Regions from separate parts of the Homo sapiens genome. Here regions 1, 2 and 3 are each linked to region 4. The links come from fine-mapping of genetic effects on gene expression. A gene starts in region 4. Each other region holds a variant in brackets. All regions are shown on one strand. Distances are from middle to middle.

Region 1 (7,980 bases), 37 kb after region 4:
AAATGTTGATGAAAGAAATCATAGACGGTCTAAACAAATGGAGAGACATACTGTGTTTATGGATTTGAAGATCCAATATAGTAAAGATGTAAGTTCTCACCAAATTGATATACAGGTTTAATGGGAATCCTATCAAAATTTCAGCAAAGGCTTTTAGAGATATAGACAAGATTATTCTAAAATTTGCATAGAAAGGCACAGGCACAGGCTATTTTAGAATAGCTAAATCAACTTTCAACATGAAGAATAAAGTGAGAGGAATCGGTTTACCTGATTTCCAGTCCTGCTATGTAGCTGCGATAATCAAACTTGTGTGTTTGATCAGCACAACAGAGAGCCCAGAAATAGAACCAGCATCAGTGTATGGAGGGGATTAATAGTCTTGAATATATGGAACCAGGTTTCAGGTTAAAAGCAGGATCTGTAAATCTCACTTGGGTGCTCTAGGACTGCTTCTTTCTGCCTTGACTGTGGTTAGTGGCTTAAGTTGGTTAGTGGGCATGGCTGGCTGTTGAGTGAGCAGGGATGTGTTTGTGTTACAGGCATTGATGGCCTTCCGGGATGTGGCTGTGGCCTTCACCCAGAAGGAGTGGAAGCTATTGAGTTCTGCTCAGAGGACCCTGTACAGGGAGGTGATGCTGGAGAACTACAGCCATCTGGTCTCCCTGGGTAAGGCTGGCCTGTTTAAGGTTTCAGATTCTGCTTGTGGGTATTTTAAGCTCTTACATAGCAAGCTGCCATGCTTCTGACTCAGAAAAACAGTTTTTTCCCCTATTCCCCCAGAGAATGCCTGGCTTTCACAGTGCAGTTGTGTGTGTGTGTGTGTGTGTGTGTGTGTGTGTGCGCGTGCACATGCTGTGAGCGTGTGGTGTGTCTGACACTGCATTTTTCAGGCCTGTTTACCCTGGCTGGGCTCCTCCTCTAAGGTTATCCTCCTTCAAAAGGAGGAATATTTTTATTGACTCAAGCACAGGGTAGAATCAACATACTGCCTTTAGGTCTAGGATCCCCTCCCTGTATGCATCCTTTCTTAGCATTCAGACATAGTTTACTCCACCCCTGCACCTCCCTACCACCTTCTGGGTTTATTGCATTCCTGGGTTGGCTCTGAGTTCTGAGATAGCCTCTTAAGCCACTAACTCAAGATCACCTTGGTTTTTTTTTCCTGTGAGTAGGAATTGCATTTTCCAAACCAAAACTCATCGAACAGCTGGAGCAAGGCGACGAACCTTGGAGAGAGGAGAACGAACATCTTCTGGACCTTTGTCCAGGTGAGTGGGAAGCCCTGGGCAAGCGAGGGTGCAGGGCAGTGAGGAGCTCAGCAGGTAAGGAAGGAGGGGCTATCTTTGAGGTGCTAGGAGGAAGTTCTTCTTCAGGCCTCCTAGGCCACTGGTAAAGGCTGCATGGCACTGCCTGCCTTCCACACTGTGTGCCTCCCCCCAGGACAGGGCACCCCTGGCATTCCATCTCCTTCCTCCATCAGGGAGCCTCACTCCTCACTTGGCTTCCTTTCTCGAGCACATTCAGGATTTCTCCATTCTTGGGCTCATGTGGTTGGCATGATCTTCAAAACAGTACCTGTCCTTTGAGACTAAGTCCCTGCCCCTGGTTTTTTATTTTTATTTTTATTTTTTTTGAGACAGAGTCTCGTTCTGTCACCCAGGCTGGAGTGCAATGGCATGATCTCGGCTCACTGCAACCTCTGCCTCCTGTGTTCAAGTGATTTCTCCTGCCTCACCCTCCTGAGTAGCTGGGACTACAGGTGCCCGCCATCATGCCCAGCTAAATTTTTTTGTATTTTTAGTAGAGATGGGGTTTCACCTTATTGGTCAGGCTGGTCTTGAATTCCTGAGCTCAGGCAATCCATCTGCCTTTGCTTCCCAAAGTGTTGGGATTACAGGCGTGAGCCACCACGCCCAGCCAGTTTCTATTCTTAACCTGGTAGCTTTTTTGTGCATCATTTCTATCCTGTAAATTCTCATAACTTTGTTTCTTTTATCATAGATTATTTAAGATTACAGCAAGGTGTGAAAAACTGTACAATGAGTAGGGTTGGGGCAGCCCTGTACCCTAAGAGATAGCATGTTATAAAACCAGGTAATAGCCCCATACTTTTCCTGATTGTGTCCCGTTCCTCCGCCTCTGTTTTCTGAGTTAGCATTCCATGACTGTCTTTATCCTTTTATTCCATCTGATGGGTTCTTCACTCATATAGGGTGTTGTTTTGCATGTCTGTAAACTTCTCTGCACATAATGTTATTAAGTTGTTTCCAACTTTTTGGCTATGAAATAATCTTGCTCTGTATTCTTGTATGCCTCCTTGGGAACATGTCCAAGAGTTTCTCTTAAAATATATACCGGCCAGGTGCAGTGGCTCACACCTGTAATCCCAGCACTCTGGGAGGCCGAGGCAGGTGGATCACGAGGTCAGGAATTCGAGACCATTCTGGCCAACATGGTGAAACCCCGTCTCTACTAAAAATAGAAAAATTAGCTGGGTGTGGTGGCGCATGCCTATAATCTTAGCTACTTGGGAGGCTGAGGCAGGAGAATTGCTTGAATCCGGGAGGCGGACGTTGCAGTGAACTGAGATTGCGCCACTGCACTCCAGCCTAGGTGACAGAGCGAGTCTCCATCTCACAAAGAAAAAAAAAAAGATATATACTTAGGTGTGTAGTAGCTGGTTCACAGGCATGCATAGCCTCAACTTATATAAGTTATGCCAACTTGTGTTCTGAAGTGGGCATGGCAGCTTATGCTCCCAGCAGGAGTCTATGAGAATTCTTGTTGTACATCCTCACCAACATTTGGGATTGTGAGACCTCATGTTTTATCCATCTATTCAGCTGGAAGTGAAATCTCAGAGGGGTTTTTAAGTTGCTTACTAGTGAGCATGAGCATCTTTTCATATGTTGCTTGGCCCTTCCTGTTTCCCCATCTGTGATTTGACCATTCAAGGTGTTTGCCTACTTTTCAATGGGTCTATTCTTTTTGTTATTGATTTGTAGAAATCCCATATAAATTATGGAAACATTTAGGTCTTTAACTGGAATTAATTTTATATGAATGCTGGGAGATAGAAATAAATTTTTGCCTGCTTTATCTTCTTACTTGTTTATTTTCATGGTTTCCTGGCATTTTATTTTTGTTTTATTTTTTGCTTTTAAATGTAACTATATAGCTGGTATTACACTATGTAGCAACTGAGTGCTTTTGTCTTTTTAAAAGCATTTCGTTATATAAAAATGGGGTGGGCACAGTGGCTCACGCCTGTAATCCCAGACTTTGAGAGGCTGAGGTGGGTGGATCACTTGAGGCCAGGAGTTTGAGACCAGCCTGGCCAACATGGCAAAATCCCGTCTCTACTAAAAATACACAAATTAGCCGAGCCTGGTGGTGCATGCCTGAAATACCAGCTACTCGGATGGCTGAGGAGTGAGAATCGCTTGAACCTGGGAGGCGAAGGTTGCAATGAACTGAGATCACACCACTGTACTCCAGCCTGGGCTACAGAGTGAGACTCTGTCTCAAAAAAAAATAAAGTAAAATAATGATAAAAATGTTATTAAGATACAGCAATTAAGGTATATTATAAGATATGTTTTTTAAGGTATAATAAACTACACTTATATAGGTGTGAAATTTGGTTAGTTTTGGCATATGTATACATGCATGAAAGCACTGCCACAGCTAAAGTAACAAGCATGTCTGTCATCCTTGAAAATTTTCTTTCGCCTTACTGTAATCCTACCTCCCACTCCTTCCTGTCCTCCCCTGTACCTGGGCAACCACTGATCAGCTTTCTATAATTATAGATTTGTCTGCATTTTCTAGAATTTGTATAACTGGATTATACAGGATACAACTGGATTCTTCACTCAGCATAAGTATTTTGAATTTTATCTATAATGTGTGTATCAATAGTTTATTAATTTTTATTGCTGAGTATTCCTTTATATGTCTAGGTCACATTTTAATACTGACCTATTAAAAGGTATTTGGGTTTTC[A/G]TTTTTGACAAATATAAATAAAGCTGTTTTAAGCATGCAAGTTTTTGTGTGAATATAATGCTTTCATTTCTGTTGAATAAATACCTGGGACTGGAATGGCTGGGTTGTATGATGATGGATACAATATATATTCAACTTTTGAAGAAACTCACAAACTGCTTTCCAAAGTGGCCGCACCATTTCACATTCCCACAGCAGTGTATGAGAGCTCCAGGTGTTCCATATTTGTCAAAACTTGGCTTGGTTATTAATTTCAGACATTCTTATAGCTGTGTAGTGAGTGGCATCTTACCGTGGTTTTAACATTTTCTTAATGACTGATGATGTTGAGTATCTTCATGTGCTTATTTGCTATCTTATATCTTCTTTAGTGAAGTACGTTTTCACATCTTTTGCCCATTTAAAAATGTGGTTTCTTATTTTTGTATTATTGAGTTTGAGAGTTCTTCACATATTCTATGTAGAAGTCCATTATCAGATATATGATTTACAAACATTTTTTCTGTGGTTTACTTTCTATAATCTTAATAGTGCCTTTCAAAGAGAAATTTTAATTTGGATGAAGTCCAGTTTTCAATCTTTTCTCTTATGAATTGCAGTTTTGGTAGTGTATTTAAGAAATTTTAGTCTAAAGTAAGGTCAAAAAGATTCTCATTTTTTTCTTTTAGTAATTTTACAATTTTTAATTACATTTAGGTCTATAAGCCTATTTTGAGTAAATATACTTGATAAAAGATCTGAATTTATGTACTTTTTTAGGGGAGGAAGGGCATACAAATATCCAATTTTTCCAGCACCATTTATTGAAAACACTACCCTTTTTTAACTGAATTTCCTATGTATCTTTGTGGAAGATCAGTTGACCATATGTGATAGGTCTATACCTGGACTCTATGTTTTTTCTACTCCTCTGTTAGTGTCTCTATGCCAATACCACAGTTTTGATTACTGTAGCTTTATTAGGTCTTGAACTCACTGTAAATCCTCCATCTTCTTTGGGAAGCTTAGGCAGGCGGATCACAAGGTCAGGAGTTCGAGACTAGTCTGGCCAACATAGTGAAACCCCATCTCTACTAAAAATACAAAAAAAACTAGCCGAGTGTGGTGGTGCGCACCTGTAATCACAGCTACTCGGGAGGCTGAGGCAGGAGGATCGCGTGAACTCGGGAGGCGGAGGTTGCAGTGAGCCGAGATCACACTATTGCACTCCAGCCCAGGCAACAGTGCGAGACTCCATCTCAAAATAAAATAAAATAAAATAAAAAATCCTCCATCTTTGCTTTTTTTTGCAAGTTCTTTTCGTTATTCTTTGTTTTTTCATATGAATTTTAGAATCAGCTTGTCAGTTTTTAACAAAAATGCCTGCTGAGATTTTGATTGGGATCGAGTTGAATCTGTATCAATTTGTGGAGAACTTACACATAAATAATACTGTGTCTTACAGTACGTGAACACAGTATAGCTCTCCATTTACATAAGACTTCTTTCATTTTTGTCGGCATTGTTTTGTCATTTCTGGTATACAGGCCTTACATATCTCTTGTCAGATTTGCCCCTAAGTATTTCATATTTTGATGCTATTTTTAAGTGTCAATTTTCAGTTGTTTATTGATGGTATGTAGAAATAAAATGGATTTATGTATAGTGATTTTGTATGCTGTAATCTTGCAAAACTCACATCTTTTTCCACTGGAATATTTTAATATGAAGGACCTTCTCTGTATTCCAGATGGAATGTGAATGGCAATCCCTAAAGCTGCTGAAGTTCCCTCTTGCAGATATGATCTTACTGACTCTAATCAATGATACAAAGAGTTTTTCTTAGGAATAGTATGGTCAAAAATAAGAAATACGTATTTTGTGATTAAAAATAGTTAACAAATAGAATAACATATAAATCAGTATTGTATTTATAATCGTCTGCCTTGAACCAAGGGTCTTCTGTTAAGTAGTTTAATTCCATTAAATTGTTCACTTCTGTTCTGATAGGGCACTTGAAACCCTGATTCAGTTTCTTGCTATGGGTTGCTACTTGCCAGGTACATTTCTGATCAATGCTCTTAAAAATTTGTTCCAGGGGCTGGGCGCGGTGGCTCACGCCTGTAATCCCAGCACTTTGGGAGGCCAAGGCAGGCGAATCACTTGAGGTCAGGAGTTTGAGACCAGCCTGGCCAACATGGTGAGACCCTGTCACTACTAAAAATACAAAAAATTAGCCAGGCGTAGTAGGTGCGCCTGTAATCCCAGCTACTCAGGAGGCTGAGGTGGGAGAATTGCTTGAACCCAGGAGGTGGAGGTTGCAGTGGGCTGAGATAGTGCCACTGTACTCCAGCCTAGGCGACAGTGCGAGACTCCTTTAAAAAAAAAAAAAAAAATTTGTTCAAGGAGACTCAATTTCTAATCTGAGTTAAAAAGCAGGAGTCTTTAAACAAAAGTAAGATAAAAAAGATAAACTAGCCATGAATAAGAAAATGCCTTATTTTTCTCTTACCAAATGCTTTGCTTATTCACTACAGCAAACAATTTCAGAGATAATGAAAGCAGACTTCTCTATTGAGGGCTGTCCCATAATGACTCATAAGAACTTAGTCCTGCCGAGCGCAGTGGCTCATGCCTATAACCCCAGCACTTTGGGAGGCCGAGGCAGGCGGATCACCTAAGGTCAGGAGTTCGAGACCAGCCTGGCCAACATGGTGAAACCCCGTCTCTCACCTAAGGTCAGGAGTTCAAGACCAGCCTGGCCAACATGGTGAAACCCGATCTCTACTAAAAATACAAAACTTAGCCGGGCATGGTGGTGCACGCCTGTAATCCCAGCTGCTCAGGAGGCTGAGACAGGAGAATTGCTTGAACCAGAGGTTGCAGTCAGCCAAGATCACGCCACTGCACTCCAGCCTGGGCAACAGAGCGAGACTCTGTCTCAAAAAAAAAAAAAAAAAAAAGAACTTAGTCAATAATTACCTAGGAGTTACGGTATCAACTTACGGAAGCTGAAAGCACTGCCAATTTCCAGAGCCTTTAATTTATACCATCATGGGAATTAGTGTTATCTCCAATTGGCAGCCTATTTAAACCTAGAAACAAAATTTTTTGAAAAAGTCAATTTGTATAGTTTTAACAGTTTTTGTGCATGGATAAGAATATGCTTAAGCCGAAATATGTATAATCCCTGAAACATCTTTATGCTAATGAGAAGTCATCTATTATTAACTTTCAAACGCTGAGCTTCTCCTTAATTCACCAGATTTTTTTAAAAATCCTGGATTATTGAGCAAAACAGTGTACGTAGTGTTGTGCAATGCTATTCGGGGAATATACTTGGCTGCAGTCTTCCCAGAGGCTAGAGGACAGCACCTTCATTTGCCCGGAGGGCAGCATCAGGGATTCCTCTTCTTCAAGAGGACTTAAGGGTGTCCATACAGTTCAGGAGACAACTCACATCAGGCTGATATGGAAGCTCCCTGGCCTAAAGCCTATTCCACACAGGAGCCAGTATCTCTTGCTACAGCTTATCTGATTCGTGGGTGCCCCTTACTTGAGTCACCACAGTCAAGGAAGCCCAAAGCATGGCTCCCCTTCAGATGCTAAGATCTTATTTATAGCACCTTCAAGATCATAATCAGTCTGTTTCTTAACTGCAGCTCAGACACCAAGTTCTTGGCTCTTGCATAAACAGCAGGCCGAACAAATGTTTCTCAGGCAAGGTTTAATAGGCTTGAGCTGGAGCAAAAGCAAGGGAGCGGCGCCCAAGAAAGGAAGATAAATGTGTAACTCTACTTGCAGCAATTTATAGAGCTGAAGCTGCCTGTGATGCTTTTTTGAACCTTTTAGTTTGGCTGATAGGACTAGTTTGTAGTGTGGGTTTTCTGTGCTGCAATAGAGCATGTAATGTGCCCTTGTGGGTTGGAAGATAAGTCTTTGTTGTGAACATCTGAAGAAAACTGCTGGGCAGGTATTACAATCCATGGTCAC
Region 2 (7,980 bases), 95 kb after region 4:
CTGTGTCCATTGTGTTTATTTAAGAATATATTTCCAATACTAGTAGTTCTGTTTATAGCTATCCATCTTACCTCACCCCCTTCCCCAGATAAAAAATAAGCAATGTTCAATTTTAAGACACTATCAAGGCCGGGCACGGTGGCTCACACCTGTAATCCCAGCACTTTGGGAGGCCAAGGTGGGCAGATCACCTGAGGTCAAGAGTTCGAGACCAGCCTGGCCAACATGGTGAAACCCCATCTCTACTAAAAATACAAAAATTAGCCGGGTGTGGTGGCAGGCTCCTGTAATCCCAGCTAGTCGGGAGGCTGAGACAGGAGAATCGCTTGAACCCGGGAGATGGAGGTTGCAGGGAGCTGAGATTATGCCATTGCACTCTAGCCTGGGCGACCAAGAGTGAAACTCTGTCTCACACACACACACACAAAAAGACACTATCAAGTTACAGAAATCAAGGCAGTGTGGTATTGGAGAAGACTTAGACATATAGATCAATGGAACAGAATGGGACCCACACATAGATCCTCACAAATATGGCCAATTGTTTTAAATTGCGGTAAAATACATGTAACATAAATTTACCATCGTAACCATTTTTAAGCATACAGTTCAGTATGGTTTAATATATTCATATTGTTGTGCAGCTAATTTCCAGAACTTTTTCGTCTTGCAAAACAAACTCTATTTCCGTTAAACAACAACTGCCCCTTTCTCCTTTCCCCAGCTCCTGGCAACCCGCATTCTACTTTCTCTTTCTATAAGCTTGACTATGTTAGGTACCTCATATAAGTAATCATACAGTATTTGTGACTGGCTTATTTCACTTAATGTAATGTCCTCAAGGTTCATCCATTTGTCAGAAATTCTTTCCTTTTTAACACTGAATAATATTCTCTCGTTTGTGTATACAACATCTTGTTTATCCATTCATTCATGCATGGACACTTGGGTTCCTTCTACCTTTTGGCTATTGTGAATAATGCTGCTATGAACATGGGTATACAAATATCTGTTCGATTCCCTGCTTTCAATTCTTTTGGGTATTGTTGTACTGTGAAATATATATTTGGTCTTTGTTCCAATTTCCTGGCATACAACTCCTAAGATCCTTGGAATCTCCAAAGTGATGTCTTTTTGTGTGCTAATGAGTTGCCAGATGGCTGGCAGCTCCTAGGTAGCTTCAGGATGGGGGCTGGTCACCAGAAATGATTAGACGGTTGGGACTTTTGGCCCTACCCCCATCCTTTAGAGAGGAAAAAGGGGCTCAAGGTTAAGTTGATCACCAGCGGTCAATGGTTTAATCAATTATGCCTACCTAACAAAGCTTCTATAAAAACTGCAAATGACAGGGTGTGGGAAGTTTCTGAATAGTTGAACTCATGAAAGTTCCTGGAGGGTGGCATGCCTGGGAGGGTATAAAAGCTCCACGTCTATTTTCATCTCTTACCCTAGGCATCTTTTCATCAATACCCTTTGTAATATTCTTTATAATAAACTGGTAAATGTAAGTTAAAAGTTAAGTGTCTTCCTGAGTTCTGTGAGCCACTCTAGCAAATTAATCGGACCAGAGGTGGGGATCCCCCATTTATAGCCAGTCAGTAAGAAGTGCAGGTAAAGCAACCTGGGGCTTGCAATTGGCATAGGAAGTGGGGGGCAGTCTTGTGGACTGAGCACTCAACCTGTGGGATCTGATGCTCTCTCCAGGTAGATAGTGTCAGAATTGAATTGAATTAGAGGACACCCAGTTGGTGTCCATGCTGCAGAGCTGGTTACTTACTTGGTGTGTGGGGAGAACCCCATACACATCTGGTGTCTGAAGTACTCTGTGTTGGTGAGTATAGCAGGATAAATCAAGTTTGGTTATTATTAGTAGTATATGTTATTTAGCATACATTATTATTAATATACACCCAGAAGTAGAATTGCTGGATCATAGTGTAATTCTCTCTTTAATTTTTTGAGGCGCCACCGTACTGTTTACCTTAGTGGCTACACCATTTTACATTCTCATGACAACAGTGCTCAAGAGTTTCAGTTTCTCCATATTCTCAGCAGTGTTACCAAAAAGGGGTCCTGACCCAGAGCCCAAGAGAGGGTTCTTGGACCTCTCCCAAGAAAGAATTCACACAAGCCCATAGAGTAAAGTGAAAGCAAGTTTATTAAGAAAGTAAAGGAATAGGCCGGGCACGGTGGCTCATGCCTGTCATCCCAGCACTTTGGGAGGCCGAGGCGGGTGGATCATGAGGTCAGGAGTTCGAGACCAGCCTGGCCAACATGGTGAAACCCTGCCTCTCATAAAAATACAAAAATTAGCTGGGCATAGTGGCACATGTCTGTAGTCCCAGCTGCTTGGGAGGCTGAAGCAGGAGAATTGCTTGAACCCAGGAGGCAGAGGTTGCAGTGAGCCAAGATTGCGCCACTGTACTCCAGCACTCCAGCCTAGGTGACAGAGCAAGACTCAGTCTCAAAAAAGAAAAAAAAAAGTAAGGGAATAAAGAATGGCTACTCCATAGGCAGAGCAGCGGCATGGGCTGCTTGACTGGAGTATACTTATAGTTATTTCTTGATGATATGCTAAACAAGGGGTGGATTATTCATGAGTTTTCTGGGAAAGGGGTGGGCAGTTCCCAGAAATGAGAGTTCCTCCCCTTTTTAGACCATATAGAGTAACTTCCTGACATTGCCATGGCATTTGTAAATGGTCATGGTGCTGGTGGGAGTGTCTCTTAGCATGCTAATGCGTTATAATTAGTGTAAAATGAGCAGTGAGGACCACCAGAGGTCACTGTCATCACCATCTTGGTTTTGGTGGGTTTTGGCCGGCTTCTTTACTGCAACTTGTTTTATCAGCAAGGTCTTTGTGACTTGTATCTTGTGCTGACCTTGTATCTCATCCTGTGACTCAGAATGCCTAACCTCCTGGGAATGCAGCCCAGCAGGTCTCAGCCTTATTTTACCCAGCTCCTATTCAAGATGGAGTTGCTCTGGCTCAAATGCCTCTGACACCAGCACTCATTATTTTCTGTTTTTTGTTTTGTTTTACAGTAGTCATTCTGATGGGTATGAGGTGATGACCAATTGATTTTTGACAGAGGTGCAAAAGTAATTCAAAGGAGAAAGGACAGTCTTTCCAAAACCAGTGTTGGGATAATTAGTCATCCTGCAAAAAAATGAACCTTGACCTAAATTTCACCTTATACACAGACTAACTAAAAATTGATTTTACACGTAAATGTTAAAATTCAAAGCATAATATTTAAAAAAGAAAACAGAAGAAAATTTTCATGAACTGAAGTTAGACAAAAAGTTCTTAGATATGATGTCAAATGCCTGATCCACTAAAAAACATGACAAATTGGATTCATAAAATTTAAAACCCATGCTCTGCAAAATACACTGTGAAGAGAATAAAAATACACACCACAGACTTGGAGAAAATGTTGAGAAATCACTTATCTGACAAAGACTAGTATTCAGAGTATATAAAGACCTCTCAAAACTCAACAGAAGGAAAATAGAGTTTAAGTAAAAAATGGGTAAAAGACTTGAGCAGATACTTCATCAAAGAAGTTATATCGATGGAAAATAAGCACAAGAAAATATTTTCAACATCATTAGCTATCAGGAAGTGCAAATTAAAACCATAGTGAGGCTGGGGACAGTGGCTCATGCCTGTAATGCCAGCATTTTGGGAAGCTGAGGCAGGAGGATTGCTTGAGCTCAGGAGTTCCAGACCAGCCTGGCCAACATAGTGAGACCCTGTCTCTACTAAAAATCAAAAATAGCTGGGCATGTCTCTACTAAAAATAAAAAATAGGTGGCATACCGCTGTAGTCCCAGCTACTTGGGAGGCTGAAGTGAGAGGATTACTTGAGCCCTGGAGATTGAAGTTGTAGTGAGCTATGATAGCACCACTGCACCCCTGCCTGGGTGACAGAGTGAGACCTTGCCTCCCAAAAAACAAACCAAAAAAACCATAGTGAGACACCACACCATCAGCTAAAATAGAAAAACTGACCTGACCAAGTGATGTGGAGAATGTGGAGTAACTAGAACTTGCACACATTTCTGGTGGGAATGGAGAATGATGCAGTCACTCTGGAAGAACACTTGGCAGCCTTTTATAAAGTTAAACATATACTTACTATATGACCCACCAGTCCCACTCCTAGGTATTTACCTTAGCAAATGAAAAGTTACGGCCGGGTGCGGAGGCTCATGCCTGTAATCCCAGCACTTTGGGAGGCCGAGGCAGGTGGATCACAAGGTCAGGAGATCGAGACCATCCTGGCGAACACGGTGAAACCCCCTCCCTACTAAAAATACAAAAAATTAGCCGGGTGTGGTGGTGGGCGCCTGTAGTCCCAGCTACTCGGGAGGCTGAGGCAGGAGAATGGTATGAACCCAGGAGGCAGAGCTTGCAGTGAGCCGAGATTGCGCCACTGCACTCCAGCCTGGGCGACAGAGCTAGACTCTGTCTCAAAAAAAAAAAAACAAA[C/A]AAAAAAAAACCATAAAATTAAAAAAAAGAAAAGTTATGGTCACATGAAAACTTGTATAGCGGTGTTTCATAAAGCTTTGTTTGTAATACCCCCAAACTGGAAACACTGAAAACTTCTCCCACTGGTAAATGAGTAAGTAATCTTTGGTACATCCATACAGTGAATGGAAGACTACCCGGCAAAAAAAGGGACCCAGCAACTTGATTGATCTCAAAGGTAACATTCTGAGTGAAAGAAGCCTGTCTCAAAAGGTTTACATATTGTATTATTTCATTTATGACAACCTCAAAAAGATGCAACTATAAATGTTAGGCAACAAATCGGTGGTTGCCAGGAGTTAGTGGGAGAATGTGGCCTTAAGGGAGCAGCACGAGGGAGTTTCTTAGGGTGATAGAGCTCTTTTGTATCTGCATTGAAGCAGTGGCTATATGAATCTGTGTTTTTTAAAACTTCAGGAACTGGCCAGTCATGGTGGCTTATGCCTGTAATCCCAGGACTTTGGGAGGCCGAGGCTGGAGGATCACTTGAGCCAAGGAGTTTAAGACCAGCGTGGGCAACATGGCAAAACCCCATCTCTACAAAAAATAGAAAAATTAGCCCGGTGTGATGGTGCATGCTTGTAATCGCAGCTACTTCGGAGCCTGAGGTGGGAGGATCGCTGGAACCCAGGAGGGGGAGGCTGCAGTGAGCTGTGATCATGCCAGTGTACTTCAGCCTGGGTGACAGTGAGACCCTGTTTCAAAATAATAATAATAATAATAATAAACTGATAGAACTGTACACAAGAAAAGTCAATTTTACTGTAGGCTAACTTAAAATTAAAATATATAAAATAATGTTTACATGAATACAATAAAAATGTTAACATAAATAACAGTTATGCAAAAAATAACTTCACAAAAGAATTTCCAAAAGAAAAAAGTTATAGTGAGAAGAATGACATTGTTTTACAATTTTGCAAAGAATTTTTTCTGCCTTAACAGAAGACACAGGATTCAATTGTATATATGTAATTCTATGTATCTTACAGGCTCAGCAAAGCTCTACTCATTGTCTACACTCATGAGACAATGAAAGTAAATTAGACAAGTCATTCCCAGTATCTTTTTTTTTTTTTTTTTTTGAGATGGAGATTCACTCTTGCCCAGGCTGGAGCGCACTCACGTGATCTCAGCTCACTGCAACTTCCACCTCCCAGGTTCAAGCAATTCTCCTGCCTCAGCCTCCCAAATAGCTGGGATTATAGGTGTTTGCCACCACACCTGGCTAATTTTTGTATTTTTAGTAGAGACAGGGCTTCACCAAGTTGGTCAGGGATCCTGACCTCCAGTGATCCGCCTGCCTCGGCCTCCCAAAGTACTGGGATTACAGGTGTGAGCCACTGCGCTCGGCCCCAGTATTGTTTTGAGAATACTTTTGACCTCATAGACCGTTCTTCTAAAAAAAGATTTGGGGATTCTCCAGGGTTCCCTATGCCACACTTTGAGAACCACTGGCCTATGTTATAACTTTGCACTAAAGGAAGTACTTTTCTTCTTATGATTGGTTTTAGGGAAAATATTACTTTATCCTTCATAGAAAAAAATCATTTAACATATTTATTGATTGAATTATGATATATAGTCATAATTTTAAAAGTCAAATTCAGATGTTTCTTTTTTTTTTTTTTTTTTTTTGAGACAGAGTTTGCCCAGGCTGGGGTGCAATGGCGCGATCTTGGTCACTGCAACCTCCACCTCCCGGGTTCAAGCCATTCTCCTGCCTCAGCCTCCCAAGTAGCTAGGATTACAGGTGTGTGCCACCATGCCCCACGCCCAGCTAATTTTTGTATTTTTAGTAGAGACGATGTTTCACCACGTTGGCTAGGCTAGATATACAGATGATTCTTATACTTAAATGGTCACTTTGTTTATGATTTCCAGCAATAACCAGCCCTAGGAACCTTAAAAAACCTTCCTTAAAGTTTTTTTTTCAGGCTGGGCGCAGTGGCTCACGTCTGTAATCCCAGCGCTTTGGGAGGCCGAGGTGGGAGGATCTCCTTAGGTCAGGAGTTTGAGACCAGCCTGGCCAACATAATGAAACCTCGTCTCTACTAAAAATACAAAAATTAGCCAGGCGTGGTGGTGCACATCTGTAATCCCAGTTACTCGGGAGGCTGAGGCAGGAGAATTGCTTGAATCTGGGAGGCAGAGGCTGTAGTGAGCCAAGATTGCACCACTGCACTCCAGCTTGGGCAACAGAGAGAGTCTCTGTCTCAAAAAAAAAAAAAAAAGTTTTTTTTCAATTATAGGAGAGTAGATGTTTTCACCATATGAGAGTAATGACTTACAAATTATTTACTGTCAAAACTATAACATAGCCATTTCTTTTTTTTTTCCACCCCGAGACGGAGTCTTGCTCTGTTGCCCAGGCTGGAGTGCTGTGGCCTGATCTTGGCTCACTGCAACCTCTGCCTCCCTGGTTCAAGCAGTTCTCCTGCCTCAGCCTCCTGAGTAGCTGGGATTACAGGCGCACACCACCATGCCCAGCTAATTTTTGTATTTTTAGTAAAGACGGGGTTTCACCAGGTTGGCCAGGCTGGTCTTGAACTCCTGATCTCATGACCCCTGACCTCATGATCTGCCTGCCTCAGCCTCCCAAAGTGCTGGGATTACAGGCATGAGCCACCACACCTGGCTGCCATTTCTTTTTTAAAATGAATAATGGGATTTCTTGTAAGGAGTGGCCTATCATGGGTGAAAAGATGCTTGTATACCCCATTTCAGGTTATACTGCAGTGTTTGTTTTGTTTTGTTTTGTTTGAGACAGGGTTTTGCTCTTGTTGCCCAGACTGGAGTGCAATGGTGCGATCTCAGCTCACTGCAATCTCTGCCTCCCAGGTTCAAGTGATTCTCCTGTCTCAGCCTCCCGAGTAGCTGAGATGACAGGCATGCACCACCATGCCTGGCTAATTTTTTGTATTTTTAGTAGAGATGGGGTTTCTCCATGTTGATCAGGCTGGTCTCGAACTCCTGACCTCAGGTGATCCCCCCGCCTTGGCCTTCCAAGGTGCTGGGATTACAGGCGTGAGCCATTGCACCCAGCTCATACTGCACTATTATGTGAGCAGTACTATTCTTCTTGGAAGCCATTTGCTGTCTATAAGTCAGAAAGTTTTACTTCCTAAGAAACTTCATGAAATCTATAAGCAGCTTCTTTGAAGATGGCCTTTTGTAATCTGCATATGACCCCCGATTCTGAAACTGACTAGGACTGATTGCAGCATCAGGAAGGAGGAATTTCCTGCCTCTGTGAGGGTTGGGCAATGCAGAGGTTGGGGCAGGTGCCACCACCCTGGGGCTTAGACTCAGTTAGTTTGCCTGGGACCCAGCTCTGTGAGCTTAACCAATATCTCAGAGTAAAGGCTATTAAATAGGACAATCTGATCTGGTCTAAACTAATTTTGGCCTGGTACAATGGCTCACACCTGTAATCCCAGCAC
Region 3 (7,560 bases), 350 kb after region 4:
CAAAGAATGTTTTTGTTTTGTTTTGTGATTCTTTTTTACAGTTCAACCATTAACAGGAGGCATTCTCAAGGTGCTCTTCTAATGAAATAGGGCATCTTCCCAGAGGGGCCTTCCCCTACACATCAGCAATATCCTGATTAGATTATCACGGCAGCCTTCCCACCAGAACCCAGATTTCCTGCATCTGGATTCCTCTTTCCAATTAGGGCCCTCCTCCAATTTTTCTAATGTGATATTCCCTCATCTCTCCACTATCAGTTCCAAAAAAGAGCATGCCTTCTTGCCAGTTCCCACTAATTTAATCTTATTACGGGCATCCATCTCTGTCACCTGCCTACTCCATCTTTATTTAAATAAATTAACACTGGGCTGCAGGGCAGCCAGTCTGCGGAGGAAATCAGTTTTGTGAGCTCTTGCCGCTGCAGCCCATACTCTGCTGAGCATGTGGTCTATATCACTCACACGTCAGGGAAATTCTCAGAAACGTAGGAACTCAGAATATCTCCCCAGAGTCATTATGGGGTAGAGCAGATGCTGTCCAGTGTTTTAACCGTGATGCATGGGAAGAAGCACATTTTACATCACAAACCAGTGCCCCCACACACACACCAAAAAGTTACCAAAATAATACCTACACTTAGAACGTGGCATGTGCCGTAATCCATTTTTTCATTAAAAACACAGCCCACTGGGTCATGTGGTCCAGAGTTTTTCTAACACTAGGGAAGGGAGCCCCTTAAGGAGACAGCTCCTAACCACTGATTTCTTACTATTAATGATTTTCTTCTTTTTTTTTTTTTTTGACACGGAGTCTCGCTCTGTCGCCCAGGCTGGAGTGCAGTGGTGCTATCTCGGCTCACTGCAAGCTCCGCCTCGCGGGTTCACACCATTCTCCTGCCTCAGCCTCCCAAGTAGCTGGGAGTACAGGCGCCTGCCACCACACCCAGTTAATTTTTTGTATTTTTAGTAGAGAGGGGGTTTCACCGTGTTAGCCAGGATGGTCTCTATTTCCTGACCTCGTGATCCACCTGCCTCGGCCTCCCAAAGTGCTGGGATTACAGGCGTGAGCCACTGCGCCCAGCCTGATCTTCTTTATTAACACTGGATTGACCTCTTTGGTCATCAAGACAGCCCCAAACAAATCTTTCAGCTTAACTACTCTCTGCTTGAATTAAGCAGAAATAAAAATATGCAATTTCTCGAACTTCACTTATTCTTTTCCTAGATTCCTGCAGCTGAGCGTAAGCAGGGGCATCTGTATCACGCAGCTGGAGAAGGAAGTCATCCCAGCAAAACATTCCAGGTAATTTCTTCCCATAACTTTCAAAAGGGTGGCCCACAGAGCACCTGCATTAGAATCACCTGGGATATTTATTAAAAATGCACATTCACAGCCGGGGTCATGACTCATCCCTATAATCCCAGCACTTTGGGAGGCTAAGGTAGGAGGATCATTTGAGGCAAGGAGTTTGAGACCAGTTTGTGCAACACTGGGAGACCCCATCTCTACGAAAAAAAATTTTTTTTTAATTAGCCAGGCATGGTGGCATGTGCCTGTGGCTACTAAGGAGGCTGAGGCTGGAGGATCACTTGAACCTGGGAGGTCGAGGCTGCAGTGAGCCATTATCATTCCACTGCACATGCCTGGGTGACAGAATGAGAACCTGCCTCTTTAAGAAAAAGAAAAGAAATGCATATTCTGGGGCTACAGCCTAGACACACTGTCAGACTTTCCATGGCGGGGCCTGAGAATCTGCATTGCACTATGCAATGTGAAGGGGTGACCTTCACACTCAAGTGTAAGAACTTCACATTCAAGCATAACAACTACTCATATAAATGAGAAAACCACAAACCAGAAAACCACAAACCCATTTCTTTCCACCGCTTCCCTGCCCCTCCTAGTTTTCACCTGGGGAGGTGGTTAGTTAGCTGGTTGCACTGGGTTATTTGATTCAGTTTGGTTTGTATTCACCAGACAGTACAGTGGAGCTAAACACAGACTAAACTTACAGGATCAAAACTTTGAGGGAATAATTCCAAGTTTTGCCAATGCACAACCTTGAAAAATGAAATTAATGGCCTTTGTCAACATGCGCTGCCTGTCAGAGGCTCATTTTAACAATCACCAGCTTCCCTTGAAGCCAGGTACACAGTGGGTGGACTCAGGACTCTAACTCTCCTCTCCTCCCACTGCAGGCTTCAAGTAACCAGTTCTCTGCCAATAAAGGCCCCTTTTCCCAGAGATTCACCTCGCCCAGAACCATCCGTGCCGGCCTGTGGCAAAGGTGCAAAAGTAAACAGCCCTTCCCTGACATACGGTCACCAAATGCTCTACATTTATACACTTCCTCGCACGGAATAAAAAATAATAGTAATACTTGTCTATGACCCACATACTCAAAACGAAGAGAAAATTATCCCACTGAGCCATGGATTTGGAGGAATTCTTTTCTAGCCCAGCCCCCAATTTTTTTTTTTTTTTTTTTTTTTTTGGAGACAGAGTCTTGCTCTATCGCCAGGCTGGAGTGCAGTGGCACAATCTTGGCTCACTACAACCTCCACCTCTTGGGTTCAAGTGATTCTCCTGCCTCAGCCTCCCAAGTAGCTGGGATTACAGGCGCCCACCACCACGCCTGGCTAATTTTTTTTTTTATTTTTAGTAGAGATGGGGTTTCACCATGTTGGCCAAGATGGTCTCGAACTCTGGACCTCAGGTGATCCGCCTGCCTCAGCCTCCCAAAGAGCTGGGATCAGCCCCCTTTCTAATTCCTTCCTCCAAATGCTCAGCAATGCATGCCTTTCCTCCAAGGGAAACATATTCCATTCTCCTGCAGATGCCCAGGGACCAATGAGCACGGAGCACTTGGCAAAATCAGAAACCTCTGGACCCTTCCTTTCTCTGCCTATCTGAGGCCACCACCTGCTGTAGGCACTGGCTCCATGTCATCACATATTATTCCATGTCATCACATAAGGAGAAGTAGGCACAGAAACGGAGGGCCTGGGGGAGGAGAGACTGTCACGTCCACAGTGGTCTTTCCTCGGAGCAGAAACCAAACCCTACTTTTCTGAATCTCTGCTTTTGTGGTGGGAGCTGTAAAGGACATTGCAAGTTAGAGTATGTCCAGTAGAGGGTGATCAGGCTAGAGAGAAGTCTCAGATCCCTCTCCTGTGAAAGATGTTCAGCTTAAAGGGAAAAAAAGTGGGTGTGGTGGGCATTATTGGGAGGGCAGAAACACTGTTTCCAAACATGTCAAAGAATCTTATTTTCTTATGCTCTAAACAGCCAAGTGAGCAAAATGAAACAGATTTCAACTCAATATTTGGACAAACCATGATGGTTACCCAGCATTGCAGGAGAATTCGCCCTGTCAGGATGTCTCCAGCCAGACACTGGTGGGGCCAGGCACCGTGGCTCATGCCCGTAATCCCAACACTTTGGGAGGTCGAGGCGGGAGGATCGCCTCAGCCCAGGAGTTCAACACCAGCCTGGGAAACATAGCGAGACCCCCTTGTCTCTACAGACAATACAAAAATTAGCCAGGTGTGGTGGTGCACCTGTAGTCCCAGCCACTCAGGAGGCTGAGGTAGGAGGATGGCTTAAACCCGGGAGGGTGAGGCTGCAGTGAGCCATGATGGCGCCACTGCTCTCAGCCTGGGCGACAGAGTGAGACCTTGTCTCAAAAAAAAGAAAAAAAAGAAGAAAAAAAAAAGGCCGGACGCAGTGGCTCACGCCTGTAATCCTAGCACTTTGGGAGGCCGAGGCGGGCGGATCACGAGGTCAGGAGATTGCCACCATCCTGGCTAACACACGGTGAAACCCCGTCTCTACTAAAAATACAAAAAAAATTAGCCAAGCGTGGTGGCGGGCGCCTGTAGTCCCAGCTACTCGGGAGGCTGAGGCAGGAGAATGGCGTGAACCCGGGAGGCAGGGCTTGCAGTGAGCCGAGATCGTGCTACTGCACTCCAGCCTGGGCGACACAGGAGACTCCATCTCAAAAAAAGAAAAAAAGAAAGAAAAAGGAAGAAGGAAGAAAAGGAAGAAGAAGAGGAGGGAGAAGGAGGAGGGGAAGAAGGCAGAGGAGGAAGGGGGGGACGAGGAGGAGCAGGGGGAGGAGGAGGGAGGGAGAAGGGGGAGGGACAGGGAGAAGAAAGAGAAAGAATAGTAGTAGTCGTGGCCGGGCGCGGTGGCTCACGCCTGTAATTCCAGCACTTTGGGAGGCCGAGGTGGGCGGATCACGAGGTCAGGAGATCGAGACCATCCTGGCTAAAACAATGAAACCCCGTCTCTACTAAAAATACAAAAAATTAGCCAAGCGTGGTGGTGGGCGCCTGTAGTCCCAGCTACTCAGGAGGCTGAGGCAGGAAAATCGCTTGAACCAGGGAGGCAGAGGTCGCAGGGAGCTGAGATGGCGCCACTGCACTCCAGCCTGGGCGACAGAGAGAGACTCTGTCTCAAAAAAGAAATAGTAGTAGTCGGTAGGCCCTGGAAAGATGCTGTGGCAGGAGCTGCATGCAACATGACCACACATCCTTCCACGTGCCTTTCCAGGAATCGTGTAGCAAGGCCTGGTCACCATGGCAGGGTCACAGTTACTGATGCTGCCCCACTGGGCGTGGGCACCATGGTGCGATTCTAGCCAACAATCATCTCTGCAGAAAGCAGGAAAAATCCCCTTGGAAGCATTATAGATGTCTATGTTTATGCCTCATGAGCCCTCAACTGGTTTCAGCTGTTTCAAGCAATCAATAAGGCTTCAAAAAACTGAAATGACTTAGAGGTCTGTGTCATACTCATCATCACTTTCTTTTTATTAATTAATTAATT[T/A]ATTTATTTATTTTTTGAGACAGAGTCTTGCTCTGTCACCCAGGCTGGAGTGCAGTGGTGCGATCTCGGCTCACTGCAAGCTCCGCCTCCCAGGTTCACACCATTCTCCTGCCTCAGCCTCCCAGGTAGCTGGGACTACAGGGGCCTGCCACCACACCCGGCTGATTTTTTGTATTTTTGGTGGAGATGGGGTTTCACCGTGTTAGCCAGGATGGTCGCAATCTCCTGACCTCGTGATCCGCCCGCCTGGGCCTCCCAAAGTGCTGGGATTACCGGGGTGAGCCACCGCACCAGGCCCCACTTTCTGTCTTTTAAAAAAGTCACTTCTGGTTCATTGAGAAGACAGCCGAGCCTTATTGTTGAGAATTCTGTCATTCATAATTCAAGCTGCTGTTGCAAGCTGGCTTGATTTTTTTTTTTTAGTTGATAGCCAATGTCTCTCAATTTCCCAGGTTTTTTTTCCTTAAAAAGTATTATTTGGGGGGACTGAGATGGAGAATGGGCTTAGTAAACATCAACACTGCTTTAGTTGTGGTTAACACATTAGCCAGATGTCTTCCTCTGCAAGGAAGAATTTTGCTACAAACCTCTCCTGCTATTCTGTGGATTTGATATTTTGCAAGGAAAATTGCATTCTTCCATGTCTACAACAGAAATGGTATGTTCCTTGGCATGACTTGGAAAATGGATAAATTGTTGCCTTTTTGCCTTTCTAGTATGAGAATTTGAATCTTCTATTCCTCAAACTGATTGTGATGTGGATCTGCCTCTTACCCAAGATAAAAAGCAAAATACGTTCCAATGACCAAAGATAACTGTGCCATGGGGGCTCTACTTTTCACATATTTGAAAGGAAATTATGTATAATACTAGACAATAAGTCACTTTTAGAGATAAAGTGCAAATTTGGGTCTCAGTTCTTTTTTTTTTTTTTTGAGACGGAGTCTAGCTCTGTCACCCGGACTGGAGTCCAGTAGCGCGATCTTGGCTCACTGCAACCTCCACCTCCCAGGTTCATGCCATTCTCCTGCCTCAGCCTCCTGAGTACCTGGGACTACAGGCGCCCGCCACCATGCCCAGTTAATTTTTTGTAATTTTTAGTAGAGACGGGGTTTCACCGTGTTAGCCAGGATGGTCTCAATCTCCTGACCTCATGATCCGCCCACCTCGGCCTCCCAAAGTGCTGGGATTACAGGCGTGAGCCATCTCGCTAGGCCAAGGGTCTCAGTTCTTAAGTTAATGCCTTTGTGTCCTAGAACAGAGTTCAGCTGAACCAACCTCTTCAGTCGATTCCAGCCTGTGAGGTTTCAGTTCTGAAATAAACAAGAGCTGAATATAGAATGGTATGGTAGACTTTGGAGACTTAGAAGGGGGTGATGGGAGGGGATGAGGGATAAAAAAACTGCATATTGGATACAATATATACTATTCTCGTGAGGTATAAACTAAAATCTCAGACTTCACCACTATACAATTCATTCATGTCACCAAAAACTATTTGTACCCCCCAAAGCTGTTAAAACTATATATATATATACTTTTTTTTTTGAGACGGAGTCTTGTTCTGTTGCCCAGGCTGGAGTGCAGTGGTGTGATCTCGGCTCACTGCAACCTCCACCTCCCAGGTTCAAGCGATTCTCCTGCCTCAGCCTCCCGGGACTACAGGCGCCCACCACCATGCCTGGCTGTTTTTTTGTATTTTTAGTAGAGACGGGGTTTCACAGTGTTAGCCAAGGCAGTCTCAATCTCCTGACCTTGTGATCCACCCACCTCGGCCTCCCAAAGTGCTGGGATTACAGGCGTGAGCCACCGCATCCGGCCTAAAATATATACTTTGAAAAAATAAAACAAAACAAGAGCTAAAGCTAAGAGGATGTACCTTGGATTTTATCATGTTTCCTGATGGGTGGATGGGTTTTCATTCTATTTTTCACTTATTCGTATAATTGAGCACCTCTCCCTCTCCCTCTCCTCCCTCTCCTCCTCCTCCTCCCTCTCCTCTCTCTCCTCTCTCTCTCTCTCTTTCTCTCTCTCTCTCTCTCTCAGAAAAAGCAGCTCTGGAGGAGGGGTGACTGCCCGAGTCAGGTGTTAGGAGACCCGAGCAGGGCTGGATTCTCATCCTATGCTGTGTGCTTTCTACGACTTAGAGCAAAGCTCAGTAAACTGTTTCTACAGACAGACAGATAGTAAATTTTTCAGTTTTATGGGCCATACAGTCTCTATCATAACTACAAAACTTTGACAGTGCAGCAGAGAATCAGCCAAAGGCAGTATGTGAAAAAATGAATGTGACCAAATGCCAATTAAAGCTTCATTCGTGAAGAGTAAAACTTAAAATGGATCACGAAACTTTGTTCTTTAGTTTTTTTCAACTATTTAAAAATGTAAAAATGGTTATTCTTTGTTCACAGGCTGTACACATTAGGCCACAGGCTGGACTCAGCCCGGGGCTCATAGCTTATAGACCATTGACTAGGGGACTTAAAGGACAGTTTTGACATAGTCTCTATTGTTGTCTTACACTCTCAACTCTGAGTTCACATCGTATCATCACTATACTTACCCTCTACTGCCTCTTTTTTAAATCTCATTTTCTATCATAAAAAGTAAGACATAGTAAAAAGAGTGAAATATCCTTCTCTTCCCACCCATATTTTACCCTATATTCTCTTTCAACAATCTAGTGGGTCTTCGTCATGCAATTAGTGCTGAAAAGCTCAGAACTTGAG
Region 4 (7,980 bases):
GAAGGACATCCTGTTTTTTCACTGGGTAAAAAATTCTAAGTTGATACATTGGCTTTTTTTTTCAGTGCTTTAAAGATGTTGCTCCTTTTACCTTGCTTTTTTTTTTTTTTTTTTTTTGAGATAGAGTCTCACTCTGTCACCCAGGCTGGAGTGCAATGGTGCGATCTTGGCTCACAGCAACCTCCGCCTCCTGGGTTCAAACGATTCTCCTGCCTCAGCCTCCTGAGTATCTGGGATTACAGGTGCGCACCACCACTCCCGGCTAATTTTTGTATTTTTGGTAGAGACAGTGTTTCACCATGTTGGTCAGGCTGGTCTTGTACTCCTGACCTTATGATCCACCTGCCTTGGCCTCCCAAAGTGCTGGGATTACAGGCGTGAGCCACCGTGCCCGGCCGCATTTTTTATTGAATGAAATCTGCTGTTATCTTTGTTCATTTGTACATAATATGTCTCCTCTTTCTGGCTTTTTAAAACAAGTTTCTTTATAGCTGCTTTTAAGCAGTTGTACCTTGGTGTTGTTATTTTCATGTTTCCTCTGCATAGGCTTCACTGAGATGCTTTAATCTGTTGGCTTATAATTTTCATCACATAATTTTCATTTGAGTATTTTTTATCCCTGTTTTACTTTGAATAGTTTCCCCTTCCATGTCTTCAGGCTAACTTCTTTTTCCCCTGAAATGTCCAGTCTGCTGCAATACCAACTGTGTCAGTCAAAGTCTTCCAGAGAAATAGAACTAATAGGATATATATATATAGAGAGAGAGAGAGAGAGAGAGTGAGTAGGATATATGTATATATAGGATATATAAAGAAAAAAGTAATAGGATAGGAAAAAACTAATAGGATATATGTATCTGTATATATATATATATATATGTGTGTATATATACATATATATATTCTATCTATTGATCTGTTTATCAAGTGTTTATCAAGTGGGAGAGAGTGACTGATTTATTTAAGGGATTGGCTCATGCAATTGCAGGGGCTGGCAAGTCTGAAATCTGTAGGGCAGGCAGGCTGAAAATTCAGGTAAGAGTTGATATTGCAATCTTGAGTCTAAAATTCACGGGGCAGGACAGCAGGCTAAAACATCAGGGAGGATTTCTGTTAGAGTCTTAAGGCAGAATTCCTTCTCTGGAAACCTCAGATTTTGCCGTTAAGGCCTTCAACTGATTAGATGAAACCCTCCCACATTATGGAGTGTAATCTCCCTTAAAGTCAACTGACTGAAAATGTTAATTACACATGTAAGATATCTACATGGTAGTATCTAGACTACTACCAAATAATTGGTCATTATAGTGTAGCCAAGTTGACATGTAAAATTAATCATCATACCATCCAGTATGGCATGATGTATAGAAAAACCCTTCTTGAAGTGTTTCCTGTAGCTTCTTGAAGTTGTAGTTATAATAAATGTTTTAGTGCTCTTATCTTGGTTTTTTTTTTTTAGACAGGGTCTCGAAGTGTTTCCTGTAGCTTCTTGAAGTTGTAGTTACAATAAATGTTTTAGTGCTCTTATCTTGGTTTTTTTTTTTTAGACAGGGTCTTGCTAGGGTCTTGCCCAGGATGGTCTGGAACCCCTAGGTTTAAGCAATTGTCCCAATCGTTTTAAGCAGCCTCCTAAGTAGCTGCAACTACAGACGCATGCCACTGTGCCCAGCTTGTGTCCTTACCTTTTAATTATATCTTCTGTGTAATTTCTATTGGTTGACTTTTCTCTTCATTTTGGGGAATATATTCTTTGCATGCTAGCATTTTTTTAATTGGAATTCTAAAATCCAGGGTCTTAGGATGGAAGCAGGTGTAAGAATAGAAAAAAAAAAAAAAAGTCCCCAATTTTGCCTTATTGGATGCTGGATAGTTTTGTATTCTTTTAAATATTCTTGAGCTTTTTATCTGGGATGCAGTTAAGTTACTTGGGAACAATTCAGTCCTTTCTAGGCTTGGATTTAAGCTCTGTTAGGTGAGACCAGAGAAGCATTTAGGTTAATTTTTGCCCCACTATTGAGGCAAAACCCTTCCGAGTACATGACTTGATGCCATGTGAATTAGCATTTCCACTCTGTCTCGTGGGAACAGACATTATTCCTGTTCTTTTTGAGCTCACAGTATTGCCCTCTAACCCTTTCTAGTGTTTTTTACCCCTAATTTTGAGGAGTTTCCTCACATGTACATGCTGGTCAGCACTTAACTAATACCTGAGGAAGAGGACTCTCTGCACATCTCTGGCGCTCTCTCTCCCTTTCTGTACTCTGCCCTGTGAACTCTAGATGCATATGCCTCCTCAGATTCCCAGTTCCATCTCCTCAAGTTGAACTCCATGCTTCACTTGAGTTTCCCTTCTCTGTGCTATGACTTGGAAATTCTCTCCATCTGCGGGAAGTTCAAAGGCTCACCTCCATGATTTCCACTGCTCTTCATTGTCTGATGTCAAATGTCTTCAAATGTTTCATATATTTTGTCCTTTTAAATGTTGATTAAGGTGAAGGGCTAAATCTGGTTCCTGTTACTTCATTTTGAGAAGAAGCAAATAGGAAGTAACTTAAAAATACCACTTTTTATCAAATTCTTAGAAAAAGAGTATAACTCATTTTGCAAAGACTTTGGTATGTTTTTGAGCGTATTATTCTGTTACATCTAATAAACAATCTTTGCATTAGTAAGATAACTTTAATTGCTATAGTGTTAAATGTCCTCAAGTTTAGTTTTTCCTTATCTTCTTGTAATCAATTGGAATTAAAAAAAAAACTTCAGAATCTTCTTCTTTATAACAGGAAAAAAAACCCCAGTATTTTTGGCATTTTTAGAAGTACATTCATACACACTGTCATTTAAAACATGGGGGTGGGAGGTGGAGCAAGATGGTGGAATGGAAGGCTCCACTGATCATTCCCCCTTGTAAGAAAAACAAGTTAACAACTATTTACACACAAAAGCACCTTCACAAGAACCAAAAATCAGGTAAGCACTCGCAGTACCTGGTTTTTACTTCATATGACTGAAAGAGGCACTGAAAAGGTAGGAAAGACAGTCTTGAATCACCAATGCCCCTGACCCATCCCCCAGCAGTGGCTCTGTGGTGCGGAGAGAGAATCTATGTTCTTGGGAGACGGCAAGCACAGCAATGATGAGACATTGCATTGAACTCAGTGCTGCCCTGTTATACCAGAAAGCAAAACTGGATCAAACACAGCTGATTCTCACGCATGGAGGGAGTATTTACACCAGCCTTAGCCCGAGGAGAATCACCTATCCCAGCAGTTGGAATTTGAGTTACTGCCAATCTCACCACCTCTGGCTAGAGGGCCCTAAATAAACTCGAAAGGCAGCCTGGGCCACAAGGACGGCTCACGCCTGTAATCCCAGCACTTTGGGAGCCTGAAGTGGGAAAATTGCTTGAGGCCAGGAGTTCCAGACCAGCCTGGTCAACATAGCGAGACCCAGATTCTTTTTTTTTTTTTTCCCCCTTGAGAAGGAATCTCACTCTGTTGTCCAGGCTGGAGTACAGTGGTGCGATCTTGGCTCACTGCAACCTCCACCTCCCGAGTTCAAAGTGATTCTCCTGCCTCACCCTCCTGAGTAGCCGGGACTACAGGCGCCCATCACGACGCCCAGGTAATTTTTGTATTTTTAGTAGAGACGGGATTTTACCACATTGGCCAGGCTGCTCTCGAACTCCTGACCTCTGATCCGCCCGCCTCAGCCTCCCAAAGTGCTGGGATTACAGGCGTGAGCCACCGCGCCCGGCCGCGAGACCCAGATTCTAAAAAACAAAACAAAAAATTAGCCCGGTGTGGTGCTATGCACCTGTATTCCCAGCTACTCAGAAAGTTGAGGTGAGAGGATTGCTTGGCCAGGGGTTTGAGGCTGCAGTGAGCTATGATCACACCATTGTACTGCAGCCTGGCCGACAGAGCAAGACCCCTTCTCAAAAAATAAGTAAGTAGATAAAGTTCAGGGGTGTACAATCACAGGTGTGAATTTGCAGGATGGAGGACATGTAACATCTTTTTAAAAAAAAAAAAAATTAGAAGGACCGTATAAAAAGTTAAAGAAGACTTACTGCTCACCTGACCACCCTTCTCATAGACCCGAAAGTTAGATTTTACTTTCTGATTTTTCACAATTTCTCCTGGATGCTGCGGTCCCGCCCCTCGCAGCATTCTGGATGTTGTAGTCCCTCGCTCCAGGGCATCCACGGTAGGGTAGTTGCGCGCCCCGTGGCAGTCTGGGTAGTGTAGTTCCGTGCCCAGGGGCAGTCCGGCTCGCGTACTTCCGCGTTCCGGCATCGTCGCCTGGTGCGTGGTGAGTGTCCTTTCACAGTTCTGGTGAGCTAGCCCGGAGGTGGTCCCCGCTTTCGCGGGCCTTCCACTGGAAGGAAGGTCGGGAAAGCTGGCATGGGCAGTCCATGTCGTGGCCACATGTTCCTTGGTGTTTTGAGTTTCGGCTGTGGGGTCTGGGCGTGCGTGGTCCACCCCGGAGAGAGGTCTTGGCGGAGGTCCTCTGGTGGGGAGGGGGCGTTGGCGTTGTCGCGTGCTTCTGGCGGGACTTTGGGCCCAGTATGTTGACCTGGAGGGGCCAGTGCAGGCCTGGGACCGACTTCCCGAGCTACTTCGCAGGTGCGTCCCCGGTACTTCGGGGGCCGCTGAGTGGGCTCTGCCTGGGGTACCCAGACAGCATCCTGCCACTAGTATCCCGCCATCCCCTCCCCACCATCGCGCCTCGGAGGTCTCTGGGCCAGCAAATGTGCCTTTGGAGGACATGATATCCTCGGTTGGAGCAAACTTCCCCATTAGTGGGAGGCACGCGGCTTGGGCATCAGTCGGGTTGTTTATTTGTTTATTTATTAAATTTTATTTATTTATTTATTTATTTTTGAAACAGAGTCTCTCTCTGTCGCCCAGGCTGGAGTGCAGTGGCGCAATCTCGGTTCACTGCAATCTCCGCGCCCCACCCCAGCCGCCGGGTTCAAGCCATGCTCCCGCGTCAGCCTCCCGAGCAGCTGGGATTACAGGCACCCGCCACCACGCCCGGCTAATTTTTTGGTTTTTGTTTTGTTTTGTTTTTTTGAGACAGAGTTTCGCTCTTGTCGCCCAGGCTGGAGTGCAGTGGCGTGATTCCCCTGCCTCAGGCTCCCGAGTAGCTGGGACTACAGGCGCACGCCACCACGCCCGGCTAATATTTTGTGTTTTAGTAGAGACGGGGTTTCACCATGTTGGCAAGGCTGGTCTCGAACTCCTGACCTCAAGTAATCCCCCCGCCTCGGCCTCCCAAAGTACTGGGATTACAGGCGTGAGCCACCGTGCCCAACCTCAGTCCAGTTATTAGGGCTCTTGTGGATGGCTGGTGCACTGTGGTGGTGATGGTGCAGCTTGGCCACTAGGACCCGGGTTTGTGGGGGAGGATTGTTTGTGGGTAGACATCCAGACTTGGTCTTGATAGTGGGGGGGGGGACGGCTAGGGCCGTGCGACTCGGGTCAGTAGCCTTGGGGCCTGGGGACCCAAGTTGGTGAGTTGAGAAGGGCTTGCCTGGAGTTAGACATCCCTGGGTTGTGGGTTGCATGGGGGCGTGCTTGTATCCAGATTGTCGGCTTCTGCAGCTGTGTGGCTCCCTCGGACTTGGGGACCCTTCCGGGAGCATGGGTTGCAACAAGCAGAATGGTGCCCATAGGGCCAAGGAACATTTTTCTCAAGCCTCAGGGGGCTGTTGAGTGACTCCTTGAATTCCTGGAGGTGGGGGAAGAAGTTGGGTGGAAGGCATCCAAACCTACATTTTTTTTTTTTTTTTTTTTTTTTTTGAGATGAAGTCTCACTCTGTCGCCCAGGCTGGAGTGCAGTGGAGTGATCTCAGCTCACTGCAACCACGGCCTCCCGGGTTCAAGCAATTCTCTGCCTCAGGCTCCTGAGTAGCTGGTACCACAGGCGCCCGCCACCACGCCCGGCTAATTTTTTTTGTATTTTTAGTAGAGACGGGGTTTGTTTTTTGTTTGTTTGTTTGTTTGTTTGTTTTGAGAGGGAGTCTTGCTCTGTCGCCAGGCTGGAGTGCAGTGGGGTGGCGCGGCGCGATCTCGGCTCACTGCAAACTCCGCCTCCCGGGTTCAAGGTATTCTCCTGCCTCAGCCTCCCGAGTAGCTGGGACTACAGGCACGCGCTACCACACCTGGCTAATTTTTGTGTTTTTACCATGTTGGCTAGGATGGTCTCGATCTCCCGACCTCGTGATCCGCCCGCCTCGGCCTCCCAAAGTGCTGGGATTTCAGGCGTGAGCCACCGCACCCCGCTCGAGACGGGGTTTCACCATGTTGGTCAGGCTGGTCTTGAACTCCTGACCTCCTGATCCACCGGCCTCGGCCTCCCAAAGTGCTGGGATTACAAGCGTGAGCCACTGCGCCCGGCCAAGACCTACTCTTATTTCTAACTTCTCAGTATGAAAACATTGCAAAGATATCCAGAAGTAGTTTTGAAGTTCCATGGATTCATCACTCAGATTCACCACTTACAAATGACTCACCTGTCTTCTTTCCCCCAAATCTGCAACCCCAAGTGTGGATCTCTTTGGAAATTGTCTCTTTCACTAGGGGTCTATACCAGGATTTGGTGTCTTGAGTGACCCTTCATAGAGTGAGTTCAAATCCAGGTCTCTCCCTTTGTCACTGTCACTTTGAGCAAGGTACTTAACCTCGTGGAGCTGCTGTGAATGTAGAACGAAGTAAAACTTGTGTATGACACTTCTCTGATGTAGTTCTTTAAAACAAAATTCAAATGTCATATCATTTCATCTGTAAATGGCAAAAACCACAATTACTTTTGCACCAATCTAATACTTCAGTGTTCAGTATGCATCTCTCATAAATAAGGAATTTAAAGAAAAACAACTTCAGCATTAATGATCATACCCAAGAAAATTAACAGAATTTATTTAGTATCACTTATTCAGGCTGTGTTGTTTCCGTATTTGTCTCAAAAGTTGCCTCACTACAGATATTTGTCCACTACAAAGCTTTCCTGAGTTTTCTCTGGCAGAATTACTTCCATTGTCCTTTTTAGTTTCAGAGCACTTTATTATATGAGGACTCCACGGCTGGCATGGTATATCTCAACTGTCTGACTGTCCCACTGGTTTTGAGATAGTTCTTTGAGGGGACAGGCACCTTGTCTGGCTCCTCATGGGTCACTGACACAGTGCTTGGCACCCACCTGGACTGTGCAACTGACTGACTTTGAGGGTATCAGTTGTCTTTTTTGCCTGGAAAAGGAAGTTCATGGAGGATAGAAACTCAGATGGGAAAAGGGGGTTAGGCTATTACTGGGGAAAGCCTAGGGTGCCAAGATTGTGTGTGGATCTTATCTGAGGTCAGCGAGATCTACTGCCGGGTTCTGACAAGAGAAGGGTCATGATTTCTTTTTTTCTTTTCTTTTGTTTTTGTTTTTGTTTTGAGACAGAGTTTCACTCTGTCGCCCAGGCTGGAGTGCAGTGGTGCGATCTCGGCTCACTGCAACCTCTGCCTCCCAAGTTCAAGCGATTCTCCTGCCTCAACCTCCTGAGTAGCTGGGCTACAGGCGTGCGCCACCATGCCCAGCTAAATTTTTTTGTATTTTTAATAGAGACGGGGTTTTACCATGTTGGCCAGGATGGTCTTGATCTCCTAACCTCGTGATCCGCCTGCCTCGGCCTCCCAAAGTGCTGGGATTACAGGTGTGAGCCACCTCGCTTGGCTGAGAAGGGTCATGATTTCTGACTACACTCATTACCCTATCTCTCTGCTCCCTTTTACAGTGAAAGTCATCAAAAAAATTGCATGCACTTGATGAATGCAGTGCCTTTCTGTGCATCATCTATTTAATTTCCAAGTATTTGGAGGGTTTCTAGCTATTCTTACTGACTTCTTATTTAATTCCATTCAGGTCAAAGAACAAATGATGTAGAATGTCAGTCTTTGCAAATTTATTGGGAGTTATTTCACAACCCAG

Which allele goes with the higher level. Alleles are on the strand shown, and positions count from the first base shown. SD is a standard deviation of normalised expression in the study named. Not every link is listed here.
For the expression in skeletal muscle of the gene that starts at base 4,267 in region 4, allele A in region 2 goes with a higher level than allele C (moderate effect, 0.53 SD a copy in FUSION).

What was found. PIP is the estimated chance that this variant, and not a neighbour inherited with it, causes the effect. A credible set is the group of variants that fine-mapping cannot tell apart.
Region 1: its variant is the best candidate, but not a certain one, in a credible set for the expression of ZNF169 in tibial nerve (GTEx, PIP 0.76).
Region 2: its variant is the best candidate, but not a certain one, in a credible set for the expression of ZNF169 in skeletal muscle (FUSION, PIP 0.87).
Region 3: its variant is the best candidate, but not a certain one, in a credible set for the expression of ZNF169 in nasal epithelium (TOPMed, PIP 0.87).

What each region holds. Positions count from the first base shown.
Region 1 is chr9:94,291,799-94,299,778 of GRCh38, forward strand. It overlaps ZNF169 (zinc finger protein 169), which reads left to right. Exons shown (of 5, transcript NM_194320.4): 3 at 543-669; 4 at 1,176-1,271. Among named protein-coding and RNA genes, the nearest start is that of NUTM2F, 33 kb to the right of the region's middle. The variant A/G (reference allele first, on the strand shown) is at 4,009.
Region 2 is chr9:94,349,571-94,357,550 of GRCh38, forward strand. All of the region lies in intron 2 of LOC100132077 (a long non-coding RNA gene), which reads left to right. Among named protein-coding and RNA genes, the nearest start is that of SLC71A2, 21 kb to the right of the region's middle. The variant C/A (reference allele first, on the strand shown) is at 4,499.
Region 3 is chr9:94,610,080-94,617,639 of GRCh38, forward strand. The region is part of intron 3 of FBP1 (fructose-bisphosphatase 1); the gene reads right to left. Among named protein-coding and RNA genes, the nearest start is that of FBP2, 20 kb to the left of the region's middle. RefSeq lists an enhancer at 1-395. The variant T/A (reference allele first, on the strand shown) is at 4,832.
Region 4 is chr9:94,255,032-94,263,011 of GRCh38, forward strand. ZNF169 (zinc finger protein 169) reads left to right here and starts at 4,267. Exons shown (of 5, transcript NM_194320.4): 1 at 4,267-4,314. It overlaps LINC02603 (long intergenic non-protein coding RNA 2603), which reads right to left and starts at 4,280. Exons shown (of 3, transcript NR_160773.1): 1 at 4,080-4,280. RefSeq lists enhancers at 3,786-4,431, 4,270-4,589, 4,432-5,078, 4,620-4,749, 5,079-5,724.